Regions from separate parts of the Homo sapiens genome. Here regions 2 and 3 are each linked to region 1. Evidence: fine-mapped expression QTL. A gene starts in region 1. Each other region holds a variant in brackets. All regions are shown on one strand. Distances are between the middles of the regions. Region 1 holds the start of B3GALT1 (beta-1,3-galactosyltransferase 1). Region 2 overlaps B3GALT1 (beta-1,3-galactosyltransferase 1). Region 3 overlaps B3GALT1 (beta-1,3-galactosyltransferase 1).

Evidence for each region. PIP is the estimated chance that this variant, and not a neighbour inherited with it, causes the effect.
Region 2: its variant is the best candidate, but not a certain one, in a credible set for the expression of B3GALT1 in tibial nerve (GTEx, PIP 0.55).
Region 3: its variant is the best candidate, but not a certain one, in a credible set for the expression of B3GALT1 in cerebellar hemisphere (GTEx, PIP 0.82).

Annotation. Positions count from the first base shown.
Region 1 is chr2:167,288,395-167,296,580 of GRCh38, forward strand. It overlaps B3GALT1 (beta-1,3-galactosyltransferase 1), which reads left to right and starts at 4,607. Exons shown (of 5, transcript NM_020981.4): 1 at 4,607-4,940. RefSeq lists enhancers at 3,873-4,486, 5,715-6,327 and a silencer at 4,722-4,771.
Region 2 is chr2:167,799,672-167,807,857 of GRCh38, forward strand. All of the region lies in intron 3 of B3GALT1 (beta-1,3-galactosyltransferase 1), which reads left to right. Among named protein-coding and RNA genes, the nearest start is that of B3GALT1-AS1, 140 kb to the right of the region's middle. The variant G/A (reference allele first, on the strand shown) is at 3,940.
Region 3 is chr2:167,822,539-167,830,724 of GRCh38, forward strand. The region is part of intron 4 of B3GALT1 (beta-1,3-galactosyltransferase 1); the gene reads left to right. All of the region lies in intron 4 of B3GALT1-AS1 (B3GALT1 antisense RNA 1), which reads right to left. Among named protein-coding and RNA genes, the nearest start is that of B3GALT1-AS1, 110 kb to the right of the region's middle. The variant A/G (reference allele first, on the strand shown) is at 4,642.

The DNA of each region.
Region 1 (8,186 bases):
GTCCTATGCTTTAAGTGGCTTCAGAACCTAGTATTGACTAATGAAGCCATAGAGAATGCTTTACAAATAACTTGAAAACTCTGCTCCTTTTCTCCTTCCTTACTCCTTCTTGCCTCTCACTTCTTCCTTACTCCCCCTTCCCCGACACACACACACACACACACACACACACACAAGCATATGCCTTCCTTCTACTTTTCCATGTCATGCTGCACCAATGTCATATGTAGCTGCTGTTAAGTAATCACAGCTTAAAGAAAAAAAAATTCATTATTAATAGACGTTGGATTTTCTTACTCAAGCAAATGACCAAATTTTAAATTATAAAAATTGAAAATGGAATCTAATGAGGTAAAGAGGTATCTTTTCCGCAATTTTGGTAATGACTTGATTTCTATAACATTATAAACAAACACTCAAATGAAGGATTGCATATCTTTAAACATGCTTTTGTTTTAAACATAACAGTAATAAAGACTGTCAATAATTTAAGACTTTATGAAACTATGTCAATTCAAGTTTTTTATACAGCCTTCTGCATAAATCATGACTCTACCTCCATTTTAAAATATTGAACGTAAAGAAACGTAACTCTTTTCTAATGTAAATATCCCACTTGAATTATCCTTTCCCCATTCTGCGTGGATCAAATGGTTGTCACCCTAATCGCCCTACCACAATTCTTTTTAAAGGAAACCAAAGATCTTCTCACCCATTCTCACCATCTCTTGTCAATACTTACAGTCAAGAGTTGATTTTCAGATCAAATTTCGCCCCCGCTCCAAAATAAACACTATCCTTACTTTTTCTTAATTATAAATGATCTTCTAGGCTTGTTGCCCTACTATACTCTTTCCTTCAAAATATTTTACATTATCTTAGTTTCAATGATTTCCTCTTTATTGATAACTCTCAAATCTCAGTAGCAAAGAGTATGTTGTGGTGGTAAGAGTACAGGGCTAGGAATTTGAACACTTGCCTGTTTGGAGTCCTGTTTCCTACAAAATTTTGATGAATGATTTTCTTCTTTTACTTATATTTGTGTGTGTGTGTGTGTGTGTGTGTGAGATGTGTGTGTACACACAGGTCCTGGTATAAAGAATATTTTTAAAAATGCTAGTTATGATTAACTTAGTAGAATCTAATCTATTCTGTTAGTTTTCATTCTTGTCTTCTCGTTTTGATTTTGCTTCAATCTTTCAATGCAAAGAAAACCTAATGTAGCAATCTTATAATATGAGCACAAATATTTATTTTATAGAAGTTTTATAGTTTTTAAATATGATAATTGAGGTGTTCTGTATTTGAAATTATCTAACAAGTTATATTATTTAGGGAAATAGGCTTTATTTCAGGTGTAATTTACATCCAATAATAAAACATAAAAGTCTGCCCTTCATTTAAATTAAGATGCCAACCATTAAACTTGCATATTTTAATAATATTGGAAGTGGCATAGTGAAGGAACTAAAGGAAAAACATTCTAAGCTGGGCAACATCAACAAATAAAGTGTAACTGATAGTCAATTTATCCTAAAATTGGTAAAGGAACTCTTTGAAACTTAATATGTTCATCTTTAGAAATAGATATTACATATCCATAATGAACAGTGCCATTGTAAGAATTAAACTAATTCACATTTGAGAGAGGGTAGTATTTATCATTAAATTCCAATTCTTCACCTTTTAAGAAGGGCTTTTCTGCAAGAGTCCATTGTGGCTTGTAGTTTCAATTATAAGTTAATCCTCATCTCTAAGAAAGGCAGCTATAGGTTTTATTTTGTTTTTAATCTCTACTTTACATATAAGGAATACTGGGAAAGTTTAAGTGACCGACCTATGATTACTCACCCAGACATAACCAGAGCTGGAACTAGACCAATTTCTCTCACTTCCTATTTAATTTTCTGCCTGCTAGATGTAACTTTTGTCATAATGGATCCCAATGAAGTATTCAGTTCCTATTCCTAATAAATATAGATTTTCCACATCAATTAATATGAAGTTATTTTACATACTTTCAGGATTAGGTCAATCATTATTGACCATTATTGCTGGTACTGACCAAGCCAATTTCTGTCACTATTAACAAGTGGAATGAATTCTCTCATTGCACAAGGAGAAAAACAGACATATCCGTAGGCCAAAAAAAGTTATTAAATTTTCTTATTAAACAGTCATATAATTAAGTAACACTGGACTTTCTGTCCAATATATCCCATGAAATTCATAATAATGCATGAAAACCTACTTAACATGCAATCTTTTCAGATACTTTAAAAATTTTGTCTTGGTTTTTCATCTTTACTGATTTTAAATATTTCATGGTTTTCACCATTAGTACGTTGTTAATTATGAAGTGTTTTTTCTCAGAGCTGCTTATACAGCATTAGTGATATGGTAGCAATAGTGATATGAGATATTAGTGTTATATCTGTATGCAGACTGTTGATTTTCTTTAGCTTTTTTGCTTCTGTAGGATAGTCATTTAATTGTCTTAATCTCTAAAAACACGGTACATAGGACCCATGTATTTTCAAGGATAACTGTTGCAAAATATTGAATAACATGGAAAGATGATATAAAATACTGGAAAATAGCATAATTGGCAGGGCATGGGAGAATGGTTAGAAAAATCATATTGATACTTGTGCAAGCACATTTCTGCAAGTTTCCACATAGCTTACAACATTCTAAAGTCAAAATTAGCTTTTAATGGAAAATCATTCAAAACTTACCTTTTATCAGGCATATTTCTAAACTGTCATTGCATTTTAATTTTGATTTTGAGATTTAAGTTTTAAGATTTCTACATTTTGCAAATATCAGCTCCTCCCCATGAATAAAATATATTTTTGAATAAATATATTTTTCTTTCTCTCCCAGATTTCAGCTTCACTCTTTTATTCCTTTATTATTCATTTTTCCCCTTTATTACCTCATATAGTCAATTAGGGTGCTGATTTTATGTCATTGCACAATAATAAAGAACTACATATACAATTTCTGAAAACAAAACAACAACAAAAACCCCTCTCTAGATTAAAAATCTAGTGTGGTGTGGTCCATATTCTCTGTTTTTAGCCTTTAAAAAAATGAACTTATCTATTAGCACAGCCAGTTCTTTTAAGAAGAGATCATCTGGCTCCCAAACTACATTGGTCAAATTACTGAAGGGGAGGAAGGCATAAGAGAATTGGAAAAAACAGTGATGATATGCACATAATTTCTATAGTACTAAAAGATGGCAATACACATCTATTTTGCAATCAAATTTTCCTCATAATGCTAATAAAATTTAGACAGGGTTTGTTTTGGTGATCACAGGATATATGGAGTTTTTAAAGAGTAAGGTAAGTGAAGAAAAGGGTGATTATTATTGCAAACAAAAAGGATCCCTTAAAAATACAATTAGCAAGAAGAGCTTCAGCATCATAGCTAAGACACATTGAATTCCAGCAATTTGTCAACTATGTAGCTGATATACACACTTGATTTTTGACCCTCACAACAACGTTGTGAGGTGGGTATGACTATTTATCAGAGGGTCACTTTGGGAAGGTCCCAAGCTTATTACAACCTTCATGTACAACTTTTTTTTTTTTTTTTACTAGAACATTGTAATATAAACTTATTGGTAGAACTCTGAGCCATTCAGACATATTTGTACTAAAGAAACTAAAAATGTTCCATAAGGGAAGATCATTACAATTTAGGGGAGAGTGGTGCAGAAAAACATTTTGTGGCTTTTGTTTTCTTTTTCTTTTATTGCTAAATAACATTACTTCGCTAGTGTTTGAGTCAAACACACATTAAAAAAAACTATTAGAACATTCAGACTTGATTATCCAAAGAAAAAGGAAAAAAAGGAAGCCAACCAATTAGGGTGGCTGCTTAAATTATCTTTCCCCATTCTCAAGGTTTTTTGTTTGTTTGTTTGTTGCGTTTGGGGTGGGGAGGTGAGGGGCGTTTATTTGGAGGGAAGACGGGGAAGGTCCACTCTGCCTACAACTCCGACATTTCTCCGTGTGCCTCTTTGCTAGCTGGGGACACTTCGTGGCTGATTACTATGAGGAGTGGTTCGAAGCCTAAGAAGTAGTACTCTTTTCAGCTGCCAAAGGGAGAAGGACGGGGGCGCTGTCTGGTGACTGTTCGCGTGATTCCTTCAAGGCGGCGACCACCTCCTGGGATTCGCTCTCCAGCCGCGCCGTTCGTACTCGGGTCCCGCGACCCCTCCCCGCTCCCCCCTCGCCCCAGCGATGCCAAGACGCTGAACCGCAGGGACGAGGCTCTGGGGACAAAGTCACCCCGCGGCGCCCTTTCCTGCCAAGCCGCGGGCTCCTGGCGGTCAGAAAGCGCCCCAGGCCCACCCCTGCGGGCCCGGCTTTCCCTCCTCACCTAAGGCTCCGGGGCCACGAGTCCCCCATCCTGCGCCCCTCCCGCGCCTCCCCCATCCCAAACCCCAGCAGCGTCGCTGCCTCTCCCGGAAACAAGCCCGCTGAGCAAAGGCGGAGGAAAACCTTGGGCCTTCCGCTCTGATTGGTCTCCCCCCGCCGAGCGGGGCGAGGCAGCGATTGGCTGCCGGGCGTTGTCAGTCGCCGAGGCCAGAGCCATCGCCGGGGAAGCGCAGCCGGGCTCGGGTGCTTCGGCTGCCGCCGCGGCTGCTCGGCTAGTGCAGCTGGGCGAGCTCGCGCGGGCGCCGCCGCCGCCTCTGCTGCTGCCCACCCCGCCGCGCCGCCGGCGCTGCCGGTCTTGCAGGCGGCCGCCGGGGAGGGGCGGCCGAGAGAGCGGAGCACGAGGAGGCGGGGGCGGCAGAGAAGTGATGCTGGCGCCGGGGATCGGGGCAGCGGCAGCGGAGCAGCAGCATCTTCGGGACCCTGGCTGCAGCGTCCCTGTGGCCCGCGCGCCAGCCCAGCGGCCGGAGACCACGCGCCCCGCGGGTAAGGTTCTGTCCGGCAGCGCCCGCGACGCCCCCGGGACGGCTGGCGTGGTCTTTGGGGGTTACGAGGCGCGTGGTGGCCGGGGCATCCCGACGAAGGTGTTGGGACCCGGACTGCGTGTCCCGACGCTGGGCTGTGCTACTGCCCGCGCCCGTGCGGCTCCAGCTGGTGCGTTCTCCCTTCCGCGCTCACAGACTTTGACAGCGCGGGGATGGCATTGTGTGAGTGTGGATGTGGATGCGTGTGTGCGCGCGCGCGGCTTGGGGCACTTTGCAGCGAGAACAGTGGGTCCCCTCTGCGTGGCCCGACGTCCTTCAAGGACCCAAGCTGGGCTGGAGTGAGTAGGATGCTGTTGGCTCGGCGGGAGGTAGAACGCACGGAGCGCACGGGAAAGTCCACCGTGGCTCGTAAAGAGCCGAGCAAATTGAACTTTATTGCGGTGATTAAAAGGAGCTGTGGACCTGGCGCGCCAGGGGAGAGGCGCGTTCCACGAGGCTCCCCAAAGTCCCACTTTGCCCCGGGGACTTCGGAGGGGAAGGGAAGAGAGGGAAAAGTAACTGTTGGTCCACATTGCTGAAGAAAAGGAGGAAAGAGAAGTTGGGGGTGGGGGTGGGGGTGGAGGTTACTCTTGGGGGAGTGGCGACTTTTAGGTGTCTGAAGCCCCGCGTGGGAGGCTTGCTACACTTTTCTGGAGCGCAGACTTGAGGATGGAGAGTCCCACTCTGAGGTACTGGTAGCGGCTCCTCCTGCCTGGTGGCGGCGTAGGGCGCAGCGGGACAGCTTGGTGGAGGCAGAGCGGGGCTCCGACGCCCGACGGCCCGGCGTCCAGGTGGGGCCACTGCCTCCCCAGGCCGCTTTGGCCCGCTGACCTCCCAGGTTGAGACCCGGCCTGGTGCGCCTCTGGCAGCTGCCAAATGCCTGGCGGCTCCGCTTTCCGACAAAGTTCAGGCCCGCTGGGGTCTGGTCCATCAGACCTAGGACACGTTAACCACGCAGAGTAACCAGGTTAGGGTACCCAGCTGCCTCCAGAGCGTTTTTGTTTCATATTAGATTATCTTATTTGATAAAGCTGTTGAGAGTTCCACCCGTGCTGCAAAGCCTTCCGCAGAAGGCGAATTCTTTGCGCTGCTGCAAATGGATGGTGCTACTGGGCCAGATCCGAATCTCCGTAGTTCAGTGCAGTGGGTTCTCCATCCCTGCTCAGGACGCACAAACTTACTCTTGGCGATTGTTTTCTATGTGGCTCCTTGTCTCCGTGGGAGTATCTGCTTAGGAAAGTTCTTGAAATACCTCAATACTAAGGAGCTCTCCCCACTGTCTCAGATGGGGCGAGGCTCCGGTACTTGACTGGCGTTGGGGTTGCAGCAGGGAATGGAGGTGGAACATCAGCTCCCTGCCTGCCAGCTTTGGTAAAACAAAAATTGGCTCAATACAGGGAGGCGGATCTTGAACTGGGGACAGCATTTTTCTTGTTATGTAGCTCCGTAATCTCTTTCACTAGAGGGATCTTTTGTCCCAAAACAAAACAAATCACAACACAACAAAAATACCCAAAACCAAACCGCAGAAACCACTTTGATTGGGCTCATTTCTGATTTGGTAAACCAGAGAAAATGAAAGTAAGGCACGTAATAGAAATGCTATAGAAAATCAGGAGGGAGCTGTCCAAATATGTCAGGCATTTTTCGATAGTTATTTTTCATTGTAAAGATTCTATTTTCTCCCAATTTAACAACTAAGTTATTTTAAAGCAGATGAATAACTTACGATAAACTAGTAGTGATGTTAGTTTTGGGTCCAAGGATGGTCTCATGGTTTTCATCACTTAATTGTTGTGCTGTAAATGGATTTTTTTATTATGATTTTAGTCACACATACTGCATTTGGACTAGTAAAAAATTGGTGCTAAGTATTTTCTTCTTAGCATTCATCATGTCTGGCTTAAAAGTGTGGTTTTCTGATATGATTAAAGAAAGTATATAGTTTGTGGTGGTTGTTCTATACAAAATTTACCTGCTTCCAGGTGATTAATATTGCAATATTTTAGTTATTGAAACCTTCAGGACTTTGTTAAGGTTACTAAAACAGGCTAAGCAGTTTATGTTAGTTTTGTGTTTCTTTTATGCAATACTATGTGCTGGTAAAACTTTTTGTTTTCCTCATAGGTTAATATGGGGGAAATAGGATTAAAGTGTGTTATACTTATTAATTAACAATTTTAAAATAAACTTCAATTAAAACTAAGCTATCAGTAACAGCCAGTACTAAAAATGGAACTTCTAAGGAAAATTTTAACGACTTGGCTAAGAAAGTGCTTTTTCACCTTGACATCAAGTAACATTTTATATATCCACTGCATTATGTATTGGAGTAAGCCACAAGTCTTAAAATGGAATTAAGAGCCTTTGTGCTCATTTTAAGGTTGTGTGTGTACGTGTGTGTGTGTGTGTGTGTGTGTGTGTGTGTGTATGGAACTTTTACTTGGAGGAAATCTTTTTTTAGATAATTTTAAAACGAGTAGGACAAATATAATCAAGTACAGAGAATTGTGTCAATGGTCATAAATATTAGGATAAGGCCATAGGAAATATGTTTAAGCATAAACAAATGATGCAGAGTTGGGGTTGGGGGTGGGCACAGGCTTTAGGGAGCTAATGGGTAGTGCCAGCCACTTAATTTATACAAGCAGTTCAAATTGTACCATTTCTGCGAATGTACTTAAGCTTTAACTTGTTTTGCTTCAGGGCAGCCCATGAGCTTAGACTGCCATATATTCTAGATGAATTTTAGTAATACAAGTAATGTCAACTTGTGAAGACCCTAGGCCACTAAATTCACTTCTTGACTTGTACAAAATTTTAATTTTAATACTCATCGGATAACTTTTCTAAGAAGATCACATCAATATGAATAGCAATGCTAATAGATACAATTATTTTATGAAATAAAACTTATTTAATTTGTCAGATAGTCACGATTAGTGTTTGTACGTGAATAGGTAAGAAAGTGAGGTTTATAGCGATTTGTTTTAATTAATAGTGAAATCATTCTTTTTCTAAAACTAACAATGTTAGGGGAATTAAAAACTTCAACTGGTTAGTAAATCAGAAGTTCATTCTCATTTTTTCTTTGTCTCTTTCAGTCTGTCTCTTTCTTTCGCTCTCTCTCACCACACAAAAACACATGCATACTAGAAAGGTTCTCAGAAGGAATTTCGCCATGCTGCATTTGAAACAAATTGACTAA
Region 2 (8,186 bases), 510 kb after region 1:
AACCCGATTTTAAGTTTTGAGAAGTCATGCTTTCTAGAGCACTCTAAATGGCTCTTAGTGGTTTTATTTCTTGTGCTTGGCTTTATTTCTTCTGTTCCTGTCAAGCTGTGAAGAGGTTGTAATCTCATTAAGAAATGAGGGGCAAGTTTAAAGCAAATGTTAAAGGGCAACCTAATTACTTTGTGAAATGTGAAATGTGTTCAAGACCCACAGACAAAGGTTCTTAGTTTTAACAAAATTTCTGTCTGACTTCAATAAAAGTTCTATTAATGCAATGTGTATGTATACACTTATGTATACACTTATGTATACACATAGTTTCTCTTCGCTAGAACGTATGCTTCACCAGAGCAAGGATTTTTATCTGTTTTGTACACTAACTTATTCCAAGTGCCTAAAATAGGACCTGACATGAATCTATTCTCAGTAGACATTTGTTGAATGAATATAAAAAGTTCATGCTGGGTGAAAGATAGAATTTCACTATTAGCTCTAATGCAGTCCAATTAAACTTTTCCCATCATTTTATTTCGTGGACATAAAATCATTGGGACAGGAAGCCCCAGAGGAGAAACATGGAACATACAAGTAGCTCCCAGAATAGCCAGTGCTCAGCATCCTTGTATGATGCCTCCAAAAATTTGGAACCCCAAGATTATTTATCCCCACAATCAAATAATCTCTGGAACACTTTCTTACCATTAAGTAAAATGTTTAGGGAGGAAAAACTCCCACCTGAACTACCCTCCCCACACCCATTATCATTCTACCCTGTTCACAACCTTCCCCTGAAACTTTCTTCCCAACAGAGCAAAATCAAATAAAGCATAAAGATATACAAATACAATTAAGTTCCAACCTAAAAGAAAGTACTTAGTACACTAAAAGTACTATCTGCCTAGTAGTATCTGCATCTCAGCTTCCCTACCTGACCACAGATCCTTGAGACTTTGAAATGATTCCTCACTATTGGACAGCCTTTGGAAACTTGGCCTCACACCATTTAAACTCATCTTTTCAGTTTCACAAAAGAGAGGTTTCCACTGAGGAACCAAAAAAAGTCTGTTGATCCTTGTCTCTGTCAGTGACTCGGGATGGGCACTTGTTGTCTGAATAAGACCAGTTCTTGGTGAGTCCTTAGAGACCATAAAGAGCGTAGATGGACAGCTTTCACGTCTTCGCCTAGAAGTCCCAAGCTCATTTAGCTTTGACAGGCAGAGTCTAGAGAAAGCATTTGTAGAAAGGAGACAGTGTCTAAACACCCATGTTTGGAAACCATACATGAGAAATGATTTCAAAAGAGCCACTCAGTGAATATATCCATTGAGGGTTGTTTCTATTTGACAGAAATTCATCAGGGTGAAAGGTGAAGGGGCCAATCAGACATGTAAATAATGAGTAAATGCATTATTTAGTACTTGACAAAACAGGCTCTTGGCTAGAATGCATAGTTATAGACATAGTCTTGAATACAATACTGCAAACATCCGGGCCTGAGGCCCTGAATATAGATCCTTCAGAGCAATAGTGAAAACAAAACCAGTTGATGTGTATTTGTCGTCTATCAAAGAACCCATCCCTGGAAAATTCACCCCATTTTGTTTGTATTCTCTCTGAATGAATAAGAGAAATCATTGTAGACATAGGAGATGGAAGAAAAAAAATGTGAATCTTCATTTTAAATAATTCATTTCCTCCAGACCATACTTTAAATTTAAAGATCTAGCTTAAACATAAAATGAGAAACTTGAGTCTTATATTTGTGATGTTTTCATTCACTTCACGTCAAAGACCGGTCTCATTCAACTGGCTTTATTTTCACTATTGCCCTGAAGGACCTATATTGTCAAAGCCCCAGGCCCTGATGTTTGCACTACAGTATTCAAGACTGTACTATGACTATGCAATCTAGGTAAGAGTGTGTTTTGTCAAGTAGCAAATAATGCATTATTAAAATCTGACTGGATTCCTCGGAAAAAAATAATAGTGCATTTGCTTTCCATTAAATTTTCTGAAGGACATAAATGTTTTTATCTGCTATGATGAGTTACCTGAATGTCATGCCATAATACAACATGACAACACTTAACCTGGAGTAATTCAGCATGACAACATTTGTGGGGAAAGAATTTCAAGTATTTTAGATTGATTTACCATATTAGCAAGTGTTGCATGGAATTTGCTACAGCCTCTCAAGTTTAAAGGCATTAAATGTCACATGATTTCGGTGCATCCCTAACACCAAATACCAGCTCTCATAGAGTTACACTGAGGAGAAGCCACCATGGATCAGCCAACTACAATCTCCTGGTGTCTGACAGACTGGGATTTTATACAAGCTTTGTGGGGTATCCCTTCACATGTTTGGAGGCAGGAGGCAAGAATCATTCTTTCTCTCTGCACACATAGGCAGCTGTGCCACAGGGCACAGTTGGGTGGGAATATACTGTAGACCTGTAGCCACACTACAAGTGATATTGAGATGACAACTTGTACTGCAGTCCTCCCTGTGAGCTCAGACAGACTTCATTGTGAAGTGTCCAGCACACGGACTTAGCATGTGGTGAACATGATTGTCAATTTGGGGGGCAGCCTCTGAAGTTACAAGGAATGAAAACATTCTCAGCATCTGAACTTAAGCCTTGTGGAAGAAAACAGACTGAGAGAGGGGCCCTGGAGCCAGCACCTCACTGGCCCCCAAATAGGCTATTGATCTCATTTTGTGTGGTTGTTTTTTATCATTTTTTAAATTATAAAGTAATATTTGAATGCATGATTGTTGTAAACACCTCAAACAATACAGAGGTCTAGAGAATGAAAAGAAATCCCTGTGCACCACCAGCTCCTCGCACAATTTCACTTTTATCCCCAGAGTTAATACCTATTGTTTTGCAAATGTTTTACTTTGGGGCTAAGCCTACACATTTCATCTTAATATAACCAAATGGCTTAATGATTCTTATAATGGAACTCATTCGTAATTGAAAATCCTATTATATCTATTATATCTCCATCGTATTACATGTCCCTATTAAGCCCTTGTTACAATTATTTTATTAGTAACTCTTGAAATACATTACCCCAGGTTAGAGCAACGCATGTAATCCAAGAAGGACAGCTCTTTCTTAATGTTTAAAATGTTCTGATTGCCCATAGAGAGTTGCTATGTTTTTTTAATCGGTGGATTGAAAAATAGCAATAACAAAAATGTACAATGAAGTTGACAACACTTTTAAATAAATTAGTATTTTTTTATCACAAAGGTATATATTCACATTGGAAAAAATAATAGTACCTACACATGTGTTATTTAGGCTGCAAAAAATGATTGATGTGCAGATGGATTGTGAGGTAACTTGAGGAAATTAATTAATTCATCACTGCTGACAATGTTCATTTGACCCTAACAAACACACACACACACACACACACACACACACACACACACACCCCTTGGTTGGGCTGGGGAATGGTTTCAGAATACAGAAACTTTCCATCAAACAGGAAAGTCTACTTAGAGCCAATCCTTAAAAAAATTGTGGTGAAGCAACAGTGCACTAAACAAGATGGCTAAATGGGTCATCATTTAATTTTTAGATACTTATGCATTTTGAAGAACAAATAGACTTCCTATTCCAAAATAGCTCAATTATGTTTTGATTGCAACATCAGATTTTCCAAGGATCTTGGATCTCAAATACTGTAATCATTTATACATAAATTGATCATTACTTTACAAAAATAAAAACTTGCTGTGGCAGTGGTATAGTGTGGGCATATGTGGAGTTTTCTGTCGTCCCTGAGATTTCACAATAGGCGTAGCTCTATTGTTTTTGGAAAACATGTTGTTGGATTCTGGATGATTTAAGGCATCTGCAGTCTTCCAGGTAAGGAAGAGGAGAAATATGCTGGTGCTGTGACTCTGCAGAGCCGCATCAA[G/A]ACAGGGTCTTGTATGTAGCAGCTCACCCATCCCTTTGACCTTTAGCAGATGGTTTTCCTGTGCGTACTTGGCATCACTGGCTTCCTGAGCAAAAGCCTCATAAATGAAAGAACATTCAGTCCATTTATCCAAAACTCTCCTAAGGAATACTTTTTTTTATATAAAGTACACTCTTACTGACCCATTCACACTCTCGTTCTGTCACACACAGCACAATCCTATTGAGTAGTGAGCAGTTCTAGGGTAGGCATTTAGCCCCATGAAAGAGTTGTATTTTACGTTAATGGAGGCATATTTCACAGGTCCTTTTGTATTTATGACGACTTTTTTCCAGGGGAATATGTATTGCACGAAGTATACACATATTTGCCCTGATTTATGACTCTTCTCAAAATGTCTTTTGAGATGGAGTCTCACTCTGCTGCCCAGGCTGGAGTACAGAGGCGTGATCTCGGCACACTGCAACCTCCCGGGTTCAAGACATTCTCCTGCCTCAGACTCCCAAGTAGCTGGGATTACAGGTGGGCACCACCACGTCCAGCTGATTTTTGTATTTTTAGTAGAGACGAGATTTCACCACGTTGCCCAGGCTGGTCTCAAACTCCTGACTTCAAGTGATCTGCGAGCCTCGGCCGCCCAAAGTGCTGGGATTACAGGCATGAGCCACCATGCCCAGCCTCAAAATTTCTTTTTTGTTTTGTTTTGTTTTTTTCTTTTTTTTTTTAATTATTATACTTTAAGTTTTAGGGTACATGTGCACAATGTGCAGGTTAGTTACATATGTATACATGTGCCATGTTGGTGTGCTGCACCCATCAACTCGTCTTTTAACATTAGGTATATCTCCTAATGCTATCCCTCCCCCTTCTGCCCACCCCAAAACAGGCCCCAGTGTGTGATGTTCCCCTTCCTGTGTCCATGTGTTCTCATTGTTCAATTCCCACCTATGAGTGAGAACATGCGGTGTTTGGTTTTTTGTCCTTGAGATAGTTTGCTGAGAATGATGGTTTCCAGCTTCATCCATGTCCCTACAAAGGACATGAACTCATCATTTTTATGGCTGCATACTATTCCATGGTGTATATGTGCCACATTTTCTTAATCCAGTCTATCATTGTTGGACATTTGGCTTGGTTCCAAGTCTTTGCTATTGTGAATAGTGCCGCAATAAACATATGTGTGCATGTGTCTTTATAGCAGCATGATTTATAATCCTTTGGGTATATACCCAGTAATGGGATTGCTGGGTCAAACGGTATTTCTAGTTCAAGATCCCTGAGGAATCGCCACACTGACTTCCACAATGGTTGAACTAGTTTACAGTCCCACCAACAGTGTAAAAGTGTTCCTATTTCTGCACATCCTCTCCAGCACCTGTTGTTTCCTGACTTTTTAATGATCACCATTCTAACTGGTGTGAGATGGTATCTCACTGTGGTTTTGATTTGCATTTCTCTGATGGCCAGTGATGATGAGCATTTTTTCATGTGTCTTTTGGCTGCATAAATGTCTTCTTGTGAGAAGTGTCTGTTCATATCCTTTGCCCACTTTTTGATGGGGCTGTTTGTTTTTTCCTTGTAGATTTGTTTGAGTTCATTGTAGATTCTGGATATTAGCCCTTTGTCAGATGAGTAGATTGCAAAAATTTTCTCCCATTCTGTAGGTTGCCTGTTCACTCTGATGGTAGTTTCTTTTGCTGTGCAGAAGCTCTTTAGTTTAATTAGATCCCATTTGTCAATTTTGGCTTTTGTTGCCATTGCTTTTGGTGTTTTAGACATGAAGTCCTTGCCCCTGCCTATGTCCTGAATGGTATTGCCTATGTTTTCTTGTAGGGTTTTTATGGTTTTAGGTCTAACATTTAAGTCTTTAATCCATCTTGAATTGATTTTTGTATAAGGTGTAAGGAAGAGATCCAGTTTCAGCTTTCTACATATGGCTAGCCAGTTTTCCCAGCACCATTTATTAAATAGGGAATCCTTTCCCCATTTCTCATTTTTGTCAGGTTTGTCAAAGATCAGATGGTTGTAGATACGTGGCATTATTTCTGAGGGCTCTGTTCTGTTCCTTTGATCTATATCTCTGTTTTGGTACCAGTACCATGCTGTTTTGATTACTGTAGCCTTGTAATATAGTTTGAAGTCAGGTAGTGTGATGCCTCCAGCTTTGTTCTTTTGGCTTAGGATTCACTTGGCAATGCAGGCTCTTTTTTGGTTCCCTATGAACTTTAAAGTAGTTTCTTCCAATTGTGTGAAGAAAGTCATTGGTAGCTTGATAGGGATGGCATTGAATCTATAAATTACCTTGGGCAGTATGGCCATTTTCACGATATTGATTCTTCCTACCCATGAGCATGGAATGTTCTTCCATTTGTTTGTATCCTCTTTTATTTCCTCGAGCAGTGGTTTGTAGTTCTCCTTGAAGAGGTCCTTCACATCCCTTGTAAGTTGGATTCCTAGGTATTTTATTCTCTTTGAAGCAATTGTGAATGAAAGTTCACTCATTATTTGGCTCTCTGTTTGTCTGTTATTGGTGTATAAGACTGCTTGTGATTTTTGTACATTGATTTTGTATCCTGAGACTTTGCTGAAGTTGCCCATCAGCTTAAGGAGATTTTGGGCTGAGATGATGGGGTTTTCTAGACATACAATCATGTCATCTGCAAACAGGGACAATTTGACTTCCTCTTTTCCTAATTGAATACCCTTTATTTCCTTCTCCTGTCTGATTGCCCTGACCAGAACTTCCAACACTATGTTGAATAGGAGTGGTGAGAGAGGGCATCCCTGCCTTGTGCCAGTTTTCAAAGGGAATGCTTCCAGTTTTTGCCCATTCAGTATGATATTGGTCATAGATAGCTCTTATTATTTTGAGATGCGTCCCATCAATACCTAACTTATTGAGAGTTTTTAGCATGAAGGGCTGTTGAATTTTGTCAAAGGCCTTTTCTGCATCTATTGAGATAATTGTAGTTTTTGTCGTTGGTTCTGTTTATATGCTGGATTACGTTTATTGATTTGCATATGTTGAACCAGCCTTGCATCCCAGGGATGAAACCCACTTGATCATGGTGGATAAGCTTTTTGATGTGCTGCTGGATTTGGTTGCCAGTATTTTATTGAGGATTTTTGCATCGATGTACATCAGGGATATTGGTCTAAAATTCTCTTTTTTTGTTGTGTCTCTGCCAGGCTTTGGTATCAGGATGATGCTGGCGTCATAAAATGAGTTAAGGAGGATTCCCTCTTTTTCTATTGATTAGAATAGTTTCAGAAGGAATGGTACCAGCTCCTCCTTGTACCTCTGGTAGAATTCGGCTGTGAATCAGTCTGGTCCTGGACTTTTTTTGGTTAGTAAGCTATTAATTGTTGCCTCAATTCAGATCCTGTTATTGGTCTATTCAGAGATTCAACTTCTTCCTGGTTTAGTCTTGGGAGGGTGTATGTGTCGAGGAACTTATCCATTTCTTCTAGATTTTCTAGTTTATTTGCGTAGAGGTGTTTATAGTATTCTCTGATGGTAGTTTGTATTTCTGTGGGATCAGTGGTGATATCCCCTTTATCATTTTTTATTGCATCTATTTGATTCTTCTCTCTTTTCTTCTTAATTAGTCTTGCTAACGGTCTATCAATTTTGTTGATCTTTTCAAAAAACCAGCTCCTGGATTCATCGAATTTTTGAAGGGTTTTTTGTGTCTCTATTTCCTTCAGTTCTGCTCTGATCTTAGTTATTTCTTGCCTTCTGCTAGCTTTTAAATGTGTTTGCTCTTGCTTCTCTAGTTCTTTTAGTTGTGATGTTAGGGTGTCAATTTTAGGTCTTTCCTGCTTTCTCTTGTGGGCATTTAGTGCTATAAATTTCCCTCTACACACTGCTTTGAATGTGTCCCAGAGATTCTGGTATGTTGTGTCTTTGTTCTCGTTGGTTTCAAAGAACATCTTTATTTCTGCCTTCATTTCGTTATGTACCCAGTAGTCATTCTGGAGCAGGTTGTTCAGTTTCCATGTAGTTGAGCGGTTTTGAGTGAGTTTCTTAATCCTGAGTTCTAGTTTGATTGCACTGTGGTCTGAAACACAGTTTGTTATAATTTCTGTTCTTTTACATTTGCTGAGGAGTGCTTTACTTCCAACTAAGTGGTCAATTTTGGAATAAGTGCAATGTGGTGCTGAGAAGAATGTATATTCTGTTGATTTGGGGTAGAGAGTTCTGTAGATATCTATTAGGTCTGCTTGGTGCAGAGCTGAGTTCAATT
Region 3 (8,186 bases), 530 kb after region 1:
AGGAAAACCAAGACAAAGAGATTATTAAAATAACATTTACACTTGACTCTGAGTTGCCTACACACAGACCAAGGCACAGGCATACATTTCTTTTCGCCTTCTTACTCCCACCTGGCTTCAGACCTCCTCTCTCTTGGCACTGGTTTTCATCTCAGTTATGCCTGTTGCCATCTCTTCCTATCAAGGACTTGCTTATTCTTCAAGCCCCACTCAAAATTCACTCCTCCACATGCCTTTTCAGATGTCCACAGTGAAAATTAAGCTCCTTCTTCCCTTACCCGAGGGCACTTTTTACTAATCTTACAGCATCTCTCTGCATTGTACTATGAGGACAAGGGTGGGACAGAGAATGCTGATGATTCAATCAGATGTGTTTTCTCTTTTTTCTTCCTGGACATATAGATAGACCGCATTTCCTAGCCTTCCTTAGAGTTGGGCATGGCCACATAATAAATTTCTAGCAATGCAAAATGAGTAGAAGTGACATGCTTCATTTGGAAGCCAGGGTTTTGAGGAAGGAGGTATGCCTCCTCTATGCTTTTTGCCTTGCTGCCATCAGTAAAGGAGCTCTGAGACCCCCCCAGGTGGGGGCCCCATGGGGTGAAGAAAGCCTGGGTTCCCAAATCACCAGGTGAAAAGCTTTCTGGCCAAGCAGCAACGCTAGGTTGTTACACAAGAAATAACCACCTATTGTGTTAAGGCTTAGAAATTTAGGGCTTATTTGTTACAGCTGCTGGTGTGGACCTAACAGAGAGTATGCATCTTTCTAAGTGTGTGCTTGAGTGTGTGTGCTTTTAGAAGCCCCAAAAGGACTGGAACTAAAAAAAAAATCATTCTTAACTGTGTGTAAAATTAAACTGAGTTGGTGCCTCATTTGGAAATGGAGCAGATGGTCATTAAAATGAAAAGTGGAGGCTACTCTAAAGCATCTCCAATATTAGGAATGCCATTTTCTCATTTGCAAGCAGCTGTCTAGAATTTTGTAAACAATCTCATAGGTGACTAATTTGGTATAGCGAACAAAAGGAATACCCAGTTTTCATGTTAAAATATGCCCTGGTTCATTTCTCATTTGAATATTCATTATTTCATTCAACAAGTACATATGGAACACATTCTACATGCCAGGCAGTCCTCTAACAGTGCTGATCCATGAACAGTGGCCCCAGCTCATTCCAAGTACACAGGCCAGTGGGGGAACCAAATATCCACTAAACTCATCACACTGCTGAATATGCTGTCAGCATATCACCCAGGTTCTCTGGTTCCTCTCTTGGAAAATAAGAATGATAATACTGGCTATTTCTCTAATTTTAAATTAGATAATATTTAGATATAACAATTATAAAATATTTAGCAGTGTGCTTGACACTTGAACTTGGCAAGCACGTGATAATTCTTAGCTATTATTATTTGCTTTGATTTAGAGAAATACTATGAGATTGTGTAATAAAGGAATCTGACTAGGCTGAGGAAGGGGTGTGTGGAACACAACAGTTTCCTCTGGAAATGACTCCTGATATGATAGCTGAGAAGTTGGGAAGAATATTCCAAATTCTTAAAACTAGAGTAAAAACAGTATATTCAAAGAACCCATGATGGGGACTTCATTTTCAGGAATTAAAAGAAAAAGCTAGTTTAGCTGGAGTCTAGAAAGCAAGGGGAAAACTGCAGCAGGATAAGACCATGTAGAGCCTTGGGAACCAATCATGGTATGATTTCCAACACATAATGGCACAGAATGATAGGATCAGACTTAGTTTTTAGAAAGATCACTATAGCTGGAGTGTAAAGAAAGAAATTTAGAGGACAGACTGAGAATAGGCAGCTACTTGCAACTTGCAACTTGCAAAGTTAATATAGGAGTCAAGATAAGAGATACCCATAGCTTGAGTGGTGGTAGTGGAGCTTGAGAGAAGTAGAGATATAAGAGAAATTTCTGAAGTGACATTGGCAGGATGTGGTGATGGATTAGGTACAGAGTTAAGAGGTGAAACCGGGACTTGACTCCCAGTCTTGCTCTCGGTCCTCTCTACCACTCCACCCTCCAGGGCTCATGGCTTGATCCTCTCCAGCCTCAACCTGGCCAGGTTTCCCCTCAAGCCTCCAGAGCCTAAGGAAGAGGAGTTGACAGGAAGGACAGGGACCAGTGTCATTTGGTCCCTGATCTCTCTTGGGACAGGTCCCCAAGCAGCTGAGCCAGAGCTGTTAGGAATGGCTCCAGGTCTTTCCGATACAGAGAGGTACATTTCACAGAAGTGGGGAACCATGAAAGAAGATCAGGGTTGCAGGATCATGAATTTACCTTTGCATATGTTGCATTCAGATGCCCTTCAGATATCCAAGTACACAATTAGATGTGTGGGTCTGGAGATCCATAGAGAGAGATCTCTGAGCTAGAATATAAACTTAAGAGTTATTCACATGCAGATGGCAACTGAGGTCATGGGCAGAAAAAAAAATTGCATAGAAAACAAGCAAAACTGCCTGTAATCCCAGCACTTTGGAAGGCCGAGGTGGGCAGATCACCAGGTCAGGAGATCGAGACCATCCTGGCTAACACGATGAAACCCCGTCTCTATTAAAAATACAAAAAATTAGCTGGGTGTGGTGGCGGGCACCTGTAGTCCAGCTGCTCAGGAGGCTGAGGCAGGAGAATGGCGTGAACCCGGGAGGCGAAGCTTGCAGTGAGCCGAGATCGCGCCACTGTACTCTAGCCTGGGCGACAGAGCAAGACTCCGTCTCAAAAAAAAAAAAAAAACAGAAAAAAGAAAACAAGCAAAACTTAGAGTGAGAAGAAAAGAAGGCCTAGGACCTTGGCTTGAGGAACTTGTTAGCAAAGGAGACAATGTTAGTCAGGGCTCTCCAGAGAGAAAGAACCAATAAGATATATGCAGGGGTGTGTGTGTGTGTGTGTGCGTGCACGTGTGTGTGTGTGTTATATATAAATTATATATATATATAAATTATATATACATATATAAAAAGGCCACCAATAGAAGACAATTCTCTTACTAATTCCACGTTGTCAGACTCAGAGTACACCATAAATAATTTTTCCCCTTAGAGCACCTTTTTCATTTTCACTTCTGAGATAGGGATCGATCCCTTTTCTCTGACCCACCCAGGGCAGTTGTTCAGAAAGCACACCACTCTTGACTCCAGCTCCTGTAGAAATGAGAGACACTGTGATTGTGCATCTGCCCCTCTGACTTTGTCTCGGGCTTGGGCAGGGAGTCTGTGCCACAGCCCTTGGCTCCACTCTTCTATCTCTGTTGCCTTGCATAGGTGTTTAACAACTTATCCAGCTTGTAATTCAATATCCACTGTGAGGTTGCCAGGTGGTTTTATTTTTCCTTTTAAATTAAATACTGATAAAGATCTTAGACCATGACAAATTCAGAGCAAATGTTACAAATGTTTTCCCTCTGATTCCTTCTCTTTCAGTCCAATAAGCTAAGGCCTTAATTTCAGCATCATTTCTTTTTATTCAGAGTAGAGATTGGTGCCATACAATTTCCCTCAAATGGGCTTTCCTTGACATTCTTCAGCTGAGAAGAGTAGCAGACCCTCACCTCTGCATTTGGTTTCTACATCTTGCCTACATTTCCTAAAGTGATGTGGGGTGAGCCTAGGTCACACGGCAGGGAATGGGTCAGGTCACTTGACTCCCGGTCTTGCGCTCAGTCCTCTCTACCACTCCACCCTCCAGGGCTCATGGCTTGATCCTCTCCAGCCTCAACCTGGCCAGGTTTCCCCTCAAGCCTCCAGAGCCTAAGGAAGAGGAGTTGACAGGAAGGACAGGGACCAGTGTCATTTGGTCCCTGATCTCTCTTGGGACAGCTCCCCAAGCAACTGAACCAGAGCTGAGGAAGAGGAGGCAACAGGAGATGGTGGGCTAGACTCAATTCCCTGCACATTAGCATAGCAGCCTGGTGCTCCCTATGCCCCTGAGGAGGTCTCTGAGGCTTAAACCCTTGAAGAAACTCAAGAACTGATTAGAAGACACCCTGTCAGGAATGGGGTGAGTGTAAGGGATCAGGTGATGACCAGTATTGAATAAGGCTCAAAGAAGGAATGAAAGTCAAAGATGGGGTGAGAGTCAGGGATGTTTATGGCACATATGAATCAGCCCACTGTATCCACAGGTTCCACATCTGAGGCCTCAACCAACCGTGGATTGAAAATGTTTGTAAAAGAGAAACAATAAAACATAACAACACAACAATAAAAGATAATATAAGTAAAAAATACAGCATAACAACTATTTACATAACATTTACATTGTATTAGGTATTATAACTAATCTAGAGATGATTTAAAGCACACAGGAGAATGCATGTAGGTTATATGCAAATCCTGCACCATGTTATATAAGGAACTTAAGCATTTGCTGATTTTGTATGGTGGAATCTTGGAATCAATCCCCATCAGATACTAAGGATGACAGTATTGGTAAATAAATCACGTATTTTTCCACTGTACTCTACCAAATGTCCTCGACACCAGAACAATCATGCTTCCTGTTCAGAGGCAGAACTCCAGGCTCCAAGAACACCAGTGGGACAGAATGTACAAAGGTCAAGACTCAGACACCAGCACAAATGGCACATATTCTCTGTGCCAGATGCCTCACAAGCT[A/G]TTTCATCTACTGCCCAAAACAGCCCTTCAAGTCAGTGCTTTAAGATTCACCTGCCAGTTAAAGAAACAAGGCTCCAAAGGTTGGGGTACAAAGAACAAGACAGGTGCCAGTCACGGTAAGCAGGGTACAAGGTGGTCTATTTAGTCACAAAGAACAAAACAAAATGCAGTTGGCTCAACTCCTAAAGGCTGAGCACACGGTCAGTTGGAAATATGACGAGATCCTTGCCACTGTGTTACTGCCCTTGGGCCCCCTAAATTCTCCCTAACTAGGGAACTGCATTGGTCTAGACTGGCACCTAGGTGAGACTGAATGGGCAACATGAAGCCAAGCAGCTCTCGCTATGGGCAGTAGTGAGCTAAGGAGCAGGGAGTCAGGCCTGTTTTCTGCAAATAGCGCCCACCCCACCCCTTCCCTCTCTGGCAGTCCCTGCTCAGTGCGTGGCTGCTGCTCAGAGTGCACTTTCTGATGGCGTGTTTGCATATGGCCTCGGATGCTCTATATCCAAAGTCCTTCGCAAGCTGTGCTTCAGCCACTGAGCAAACTGGAATGGAAACCAGAGCATTACACAATTCCTGGGTTTACAGACTTTGAAAGGCACCAAGAGTGGTTTGTTGGGGTTGAGATTGGCCACATCCCAGTGTGCTTTTCTGGGACTTTGTAACAGTTATTTCTGAGAGGGTTTCACTGAGCCCTAGAGAGACTGCTAGAAGGTCAACACAGAGGGCTCTCGAAGCACAGCAGAGACAGGCAACAAACCCGTCACAACCACAGCATTCAGCCCCCTCCCCTGCCCTCTTAGGGTAGGTTGCTCTAAGCTCTCTAAGAACACACAGAATTAAGTAAGGGTTTATTTCCCAGTTGCCTCAACAAATATTTATTCAGCTGTGTATAAGACCTCATGTTTCTCACCAGACTGTGATGCTGTGTAATGTACCTTTGATTCCCTGGCACCTATTCCTGGGCCTAAAAGAAGTGGATGCTCTACAGTTGTTAGTCAAATGAATTAGCATACACCATCTAGTCCTAGAATTTGGAAAACGCCCTATAATGTGAAACAGTCAACAAATCCCCTGTCACCAATTGAGTCTACCTGCCGTCCCATAAATGACTTCTCACATCTTTCCTAATAGCACAAAATTGCTCTCAAGCTCGAGTGAAATAAGTCTAACCTGTGATGAACTGCCGAATGAATTAATAAACACCACTTCATGGAAAGTGTTCTGTGGGAATGTGACATGGTCAGAAATATGATTGGCAGAGGTCATAGAGTGGATGGGAACCTACCAGTGTGTGGTTTCTGATATTTTTTCCTGCATAAGAGATGAGTTTCTCATGGCTCCTATATTCCCAACAGGCACGTTTAAAACATGTCCCCTTCTTTGTCTCTCAGGAAAGCAAATCAATCAGTAGGCAAATGCATAAAATTGATATCTTCACAAGGACAAACCTGAATGTGCTCTCTTTTTAAAAATCACAATCCTAATAATGGACAGCCTTTACTGAGTGCTTACTCTATGCTAAGCACTGTGCCATGAGCTTTGCATATATGATCCCATTTGAGCTAGAAACAACCAACCCTGTGTGGTTTGTTCTGTAGGATCTTCATTTTGCAGATTAGGAAACGGGCCTATAGAGGTTGCAGAACATTTCCAGGAGTAATATGTGTGTGGGACTGAAATGCAGGTCTTGACATTAACACTGTCCTGTCTCTAAAATTATCATACTCAAATTTCAGTACTTGGTGACTGTCATCATAAGTTGTCATGCTGTCCCTCACAACTGACTGCCACAATCTGTGTACTATAACAGAGAGAAACGTTTACCAAAAGTACGGTCTGGCTTTTATCAAAACTAACTTTTTGCTTCATGGTTTGAACCAAATTGTCCAATACTGATTTGAGTTACTCGGGTCTTAAAAAGCAATACGTTAATAACTGTCTCTTACTGATTGTCTATAATGTCCTACTCACTATATCAGACATTTTTCAAAAATTATTTCTAATAAAAATAGATATCTAGGCCAGGTGCGGTGGCTCACGCCTGTAATCCCAGCACTTTGGGAGGCCGAGGTAGGTGGATCATGAGGTCAGGAGTTCGAGACCAGCCTGGCCAACATAGTGAAACCCCATCTCTACTAAAAATACAAAAAATTAGCTGGGCCTGGTGGCGGGTGCCTGTAATCCCAGCTACTCAGAAGGCTGAGGCAGGAGAATCACTTGAATCTGGGAGGCGGAGGTTACAGGGAGCCAAGATCACGCCATTGCACTCCAGCCCGGGTGACAGTGCAAGACTCCATCTCAAGGAAAAAAAAAAAGAAAAGAAGAAGAAAGAAAAAAAAATAGATATCTAAAGTATGATAAATAAAGTTGGAGCAGGACAGAAAGGGGAGCCAAGTCTTCCCCCACTTATGAGTTTCATTTTTCAGGCTCCAGAGGCCTTTCATGTCTCTTTTTCCCACTCTTGAAAAGTCTCAGTTGATGCCTTTCCTTCTCTCCTCCTTTGTTGATATCCTTCTCCACTGGCATCATCTCTACCCCTCCCCTTGGCTAAGATGTGAGCTGTGACTTCCTGCTGGGCAGGATGAGATGATCTGGGAGAATAGTCCTCTGAGATGCGCGGAGAATGGGGTGGGAAGTTATGTGAGAAAGAGAAGCCATAGCAGGGCGAGTGCTCCAAGGAGGGGTGCAAAGCCCATGTAGGTAAATGAAATGGAGTGGTGGTCCTTCTGAGGAGAAAATGGAAAGGCCAGGAGAAGGGGCTGACTACAAGTAACCACAGTCTTTTGGGAGGAGAGGAAAAGGCAAAAGAAATGTCTAGAAAGCACGGATGTTCTTTATGAACAACCACACAGGAAGATTAAAAGCAGTGTTTTCCTCACCAAGCATTGACATTTGTGTGGAAGTCCTGTTGACCACTGCATCATTTCTCTCTGTCGTTCTCGCCAATGCCCACCAGAGTCTGGAAGTCACGCCCAGAGAAATGTCTTCAAGGACTGAGCAGAAGTGAATTCTCTGCAGCCCTCAACACTTGAGCAGCTTCCTGAATGACAAACCTCACTAAGGCCGGGTCTTTTTCACAGACCTGGGAGCAGGGGTCAGTAGCGGGCAGGCTGTGCGGCAAACATACCATTGTCATTTGGATGAGGAAAGACATTAAGCGGGAACAGGGCAGGGTAGGGATTCGTTCATACTTAAAAAAAAAAAAAAAGTTTGGTTAGACAATCAAGGAGACGTGCAAATGTTCCCCAGCCTTCAGTGAAATGCTTTCAGGCTTTCACGTGAAAAGTTTGTACATTAATTTACTTCAAACTTGTCCACAATTGTGAACTGTCAATATCAATATGGGCCCATGTGCTGCCTATTTGAAGATGATGCTACCATTGTTGATTATCCTGGATGTGTATGAATTTAGTTGAAAAGACTGCTGCATGCTCAGCTGTTTCCTCTGTTGCACAAAAAACTGATTTCAAACTGTAGCCGTTTGAAAATATATACCACCAAAAAGTTTGATGTAAAAATAAGCAAGTGCTTCCTTAACCCGT